Linked DNA regions of Homo sapiens: region 1 is linked to region 2. A link means that fine-mapping ties the variant in region 2 to the expression of a gene that starts in the linked region. Tissue or cell type: whole blood. Region 2 holds a variant in brackets; the other region holds the start of a gene. All regions are shown on one strand. Distances are between the middles of the regions.

The links. PIP is the estimated chance that this variant, and not a neighbour inherited with it, causes the effect.
Region 1: it holds the start of CEBPA, and the variant in region 2 is fine-mapped to the expression of CEBPA in whole blood (TOPMed, PIP above 0.99).

What each region holds. Positions count from the first base shown.
Region 1 is chr19:33,301,065-33,303,564 of GRCh38, forward strand. CEBPA (CCAAT enhancer binding protein alpha) reads right to left here and starts at 1,470. Exons shown (of 1, transcript NM_004364.5): 1 at 1-1,470. The coding sequence starts at 1,350. The coding sequence ends at 274. CEBPA-DT (CEBPA divergent transcript) reads left to right here and starts at 1,757. Exons shown (of 1, transcript NR_026887.2): 1 at 1,757-2,500. RefSeq lists silencers at 1,301-1,870, 1,951-2,210.
Region 2 is chr19:33,343,201-33,345,952 of GRCh38, forward strand. No RefSeq gene overlaps it. Among named protein-coding and RNA genes, the nearest start is that of CEBPG, 29 kb to the right of the region's middle. The variant A/G (reference allele first, on the strand shown) is at 1,288.

The DNA.
Region 1 (2,500 bases), 42 kb before region 2:
TAAATACTAGAGTTGCCGGGCTCCCAGCTCAGCCCCAAGAATTCTCCCCTCCTCGCAGGGAGAAGCCACCGCCTGGCCCCCTCATCTTAGACGCACCAAGTCCGGCGCAGAGGAAGGGAGGGGACACGCGGAGCAGGCCAGGCTTTCAGGAGGCACCGGAATCTCCTAGTCCTGGCTCGCACGGCTCGGGCAAGCCTCGAGATCCGGCGACCCCAAACCACTCCCTGGGTCCCCGCCGGAGGCTGGCCCAGGGCGGTCCCACAGCCGCGCGCCTCACGCGCAGTTGCCCATGGCCTTGACCAAGGAGCTCTCTGGCAGCTGGCGGAAGATGCCCCGCAGCGTGTCCAGTTCGCGGCTCAGCTGTTCCACCCGCTTGCGCAGGCGGTCATTGTCACTGGTCAGCTCCAGCACCTTCTGCTGCGTCTCCACGTTGCGCTGCTTGGCCTTGTCGCGGCTCTTGCGCACCGCGATGTTGTTGCGCTCGCGCCGCACCCGGTACTCGTTGCTGTTCTTGTCCACCGACTTCTTGGCCTTGCCCGCGCCGCTGCCGCCACTCGCGCGGAGGTCGGGGTGCGCGGCGCCCAGCCCCTTGAGCGCGCTGCCAGGGCCCGGCAGGCCGGCGGCACCGAGCGCGGGCGCGGGGTGCGGGCTGGGCACGGGCGTGGGCGGCGGCGTGGGGTGACCGGGCTGCAGGTGCATGGTGGTCTGGCCGCAGTGCGCGATCTGGAACTGCAGGTGCGGGGCGGCCAGGTGCGCGGGCGGCGGGTGCGGGTGCGGGTGCGAGGGCGGCGGCGGCGGCGGCGGCTGGTAAGGGAAGAGGCCGGCCAGCGCCAGCTGCTTGGCTTCATCCTCCTCGCGGGGCTCCTGCTTGATCACCAGCGGCCGCAGCGCCGGCGCCCCGACGCGCTCGTACAGGGGCTCCAGCCTGCCGTCCAGGTAGCCGGCGGCCGCGCAGCCGTAGCCGGGCGGGGGCCCGTGCGCTCCCCCGGGCATGACGGCGCCGCCGGGGCCCGCGGGCGCGCCCGGGTAGTCAAAGTCGCCGCCGCCGCCGCCGCCCGTGGGGCCCACGGCCGCCTTGGCCTTCTCCTGCTGCCGGCTGTGCTGGAACAGGTCGGCCAGGAACTCGTCGTTGAAGGCGGCCGGGTCGATGTAGGCGCTGATGTCGATGGACGTCTCGTGCTCGCAGATGCCGCCCAGCGGCTCCGGGGCGGCAGGTGGGGCGGGAGGCTGCGCGGGGCCCGCGCCCCGGGGAAAGCCGAAGGCGGCGCTGCTGGGCGCGTGCGGGGGGCTCTGCAGGTGGCTGCTCATCGGGGGCCGCGGCTCCGCCTCGTAGAAGTCGGCCGACTCCATGGGGGAGTTAGAGTTCTCCCGGCATGGCGAGCCTCGGCGGCCTCCAGCCTGCGCGGGGCGTCGCCGCCGCCCACCCGGAGACCCTGCTCGCCCGCGCCCGCGCACCTCCGGGTCGCGAATGGCCCGGCCCGCGCCGGCCCAGCTTTTATACCCGGCAGGCCGCGTCGCCCCCTAGAGTCCGAGGCGGCCTCTGTCCCCGGGCTGCGGCGGCGCGGCGCCTGCTGGGTCCTAGCGCGCGGCCGGCATGGGGCGGCGAACCAGCGCGGCACAGCGCCGCGCTCCCCAGGCAGGCCGCGGCGCAACGCCCACCGCCTCCAGCGCGCCCAGCAGAGCCGCGGCGCTCGCTCCAAGCTCCGCCCCCGGCCCGGCCGTCGCCCCCGCGCCCACGTGGTCGGTAGCGGGGGCCCCCTCCTCCTGCCTGCCCTAGGCGCCCGTATCCAGCCACGGCCGGGAGCCCAGGAGTATCCCGAGGCTGCACGGGGTAGGGGTGGGGGGCGGAGGGCGAGTCTTGGTCTTGAGCTGCTGGGGCGCGGATTCTCTTTCAAAGCCAGAACCAGGCCTGTCCCGGACCCGCGTCCCGGGGAGGCTGCAGCGCAGAGCAGCGGGGCTGGGGCCGGTGGGGGGCCGTTTGGGACGCGCGGAGAGGTCCTGAGCGCGGTGGCTCTGCGTCTCCTAGCTCTGATCTCCAGGCTACCCCTGTGATTCCGCGCAGAGGTACCTCTCGGAGGACGCCGGGGTCCCATGGGCGGCGCCGCGCAGGGCGCTAGGACCCCGCGGGGAGCGGAGGCGGCCTCGGCCCGGGAGCCTGGAGGACCTGGCCGGTCGATCCGCCCGGGCTGGAAAACTTTCTTTATAATTACTTCTCCAGGTCGGAGCGCGCGGCTTGCTAGGCGCGCGGGGCCGGCGCTGTTACCCGGCGTGGAGTCGCCGATTTTTTTTCCTGCGGGACCGCGGGGCCCCCCAGACTAGCGGAGCTGGACGCCGGGGCGAGCACGGGGAGGGGCGCACCGAGGGAGGAGACAAACTTAACTCTGGGGCCGGGATTCCGAGGCGGGGGCCGCAGCCCTCGAGGCCCGAAGCCACCGCTTCCTCCCCCGCCTCCCCATTCAGGTGGGCGCCAACGGCGGGAGCGAGGGTGTCCAGGCCGCCG
Region 2 (2,752 bases):
GGAAACTAACCACTTCTCCAATGGATAAATCTTGGAATATTCACACAGTAGAATTTTATGGAGTAGCAAAAATGAGTTATCTTTTGCTACTGCCAACATAGGTGAATCTCATGAACATAATGTGGAATGACAAGAGCCAGATATGAAAGAGGACCATCTGCACATTCCATGGAATTGCATTTATATCAAGTTTTCTATCAAACAGGCAAAACTACTTCATGGTGTTTGAGGGGGAGGGAGGGTGGAGACTGGGATAAGAATCACAAGGGGACTTCTGTTCCTTGATCTGCGTGCTAGTCTTGTGAAATTTCAGAGCTGTGCCCTTATTAGTTCCTTGAAAGAAAAGTAAAGCAAGGCCGGGTGCAGTGGCTCATGCCTATAATCCCAGCACTTTGGGAGGCTGAGGTGGGAGGATTGCTTGAGCCAGGAGTTCAAGATGAGCCTGGGCAATATAGTGAGACCCCTGTCTCTATAAAAAAAATGAAAAAAAAAATAGCCAGGCACAGTGGTGCACACCTGTAGTCTCAGCTACTCCGGAGGCTGAGGCAGGAGGATCACTTGAGCCCAGGAGTTTGAGGCTGCAGTGAGCTATGATCATGCCCCTGTAGTCCACACTGGGCTATAGAGCAAAATCCTGTCTCAAAAAAAGAGAAGGAAAGAAAGAAAAAGAAAAAGAAAGCACCTCAAACAAGCCTGATACTGATTTGCAACTCATTAAACAACAAACACTTTTGTCAGTACAATGCAAGTATCCATCTTCTTAGGTCCTTGCCAGGCAGGTGGCCAAGAGGTCAAATCAGCGTGATTCTCTCCTTGCTGCTGACAGCGTTTCTAATTCAGCTGCTCATCAACAGTTCTGAAAATTTCCCCTAAGGGACTACATTTTCCATGGTCAGAGAAACATTAAATTGACTATTTTTAGAAAAAGGAGCTTTGATAAGAGACTACTTTTCATTATGGAATTGAGAAGAAAGAATTAGGACAGAAAACCTGGGTAAACGAGACAGAAATAGACCCAACAAACGTACCCAGATGTGGTCTTGATCCCTTAGGAATCCAAAACTAATTTATACCACGGATTCTTCTTAAGGATATGGTTCTCTTATTCCCAGCTGATTTTTAGGAGAATTTCGGTATGAGGTGTCCCCAGAGCTGGCCGAGTCTACAGTTGCCATTCCCAAGCCCCTCCCTTCTCCTCTCTCTTCCCGGATACCATGGAAACCCATAATCAAAGGCAACGCCAACAACTCCTCTTCCTTCTCCCACGGGGCAGAGCTGAGCGCTCAG[A/G]GATGCAGCTTTGGATGAAAAATGAGAAAAAAAAAAAAGAAAGAAAAGAAACTGAGCTCGCTGGAGATTCACCCTTGCAACTCTTAACAAGATTTGGCATCTGTGTACCTCATGTGATTCTGGGAGAATTCTGTATCAAAAACAGTTTTGTGTGTGTATGTGTGTGTGTGTGTGTGTGTGTGTTTTAATGACAATCTTGACTTGATGAATATCCCAGTAATCGAAGGTGAGGTTTTCCTCATATGCCGGTGCCTCTTTTTCCCTTCCCTCTAAGGAGAGCAAACTCCTGGCAGATCTCATGTGAGTTTTTGGAAATAAGTGTGGCTGTTACTAAATCCATGCACAGGAGAACACATTCTACTCTCGGGTGGATCCCACTGGCTCTTGTTTGCACGTGTTTTGGATGGAGAGGCCCCTTTTAAAAGATAATTCACTAAGCATGTCATTTCGGTGAGTTTTACTTAAATTTCAGTTACAGTAAAATTCTCCCCGCAGGAACACATCTCTTGTCAAGAGAAAGGAACTTAACATTTTCCTTTGTAGGAGTCTAGCTGCCTCTGTGAGCACAAATCCTATATATATAATCCTTGAAGAGAAGGTGGAGAGGAGGGGAGGAGACATTTCCCAAGGGAGTGGCTGTGATTATACCTACGATAGCAGGTGGTAGGAGAAAAAGTGAATTTGGCAGTTTTCAGAGTAATACGACATCTCTAGAAAGCCATTCTAGATAGTCCAATCTCATGGCCCATTTTGGGGGCTTTGATCCTATTGATGGGACTGTGTAAGTCTTTGGTTCCACATGGCCTTCTCACTGTGGCCTCGGCTGTGCTATTTAAAATGTACTTTATCCCACGCCTGTTCCTCTTTAGCCTCCTCCGCTTTCCACCCCCACGATACTTACCACCTTTTAATACAGCATGCACTGCTAGTGGGAGTGTAAATTAGTCAGAAATAATAGAAAACAGCATGGAGGTTCCTCAACAAATTAAAAATAGCACTACCATAAGATCCAACAATCCCACCAGAGGGTACAGATCCAAAGGAAATGAAATCGGCATGTCAAAGAGATTTCTGTACTCTTATGTTTATTACAGCATTATTCACAATGGCCGAGATATGGAATCAACCTAAGTGTCCATCAATGGATGGATGAAGAAAATGTGGTATATATACACAGTGGAATACTATTCAGCCTTAAAAAAGAATGAAATCTTGTCATTTGCAGCAACATGGATGAACTTTGAGGACCTTATGTTAAATGAAATAAGCCAGGCACAGAAAGACAAAGTCTATGTGACCTTACTCATATGTGGAGCCTAAAAAAGTTGATGTGGCTGGGCACTCTGGCTCATGCCTGTAATCCCAGCATTTTGGGAGGCCAAGGCAGGCATATCACCTGAGCACAGGAGTTTGAGACCAGCCGGGACAACATGGTGAAACCCGTATCTACAAAAAAATACAAAAA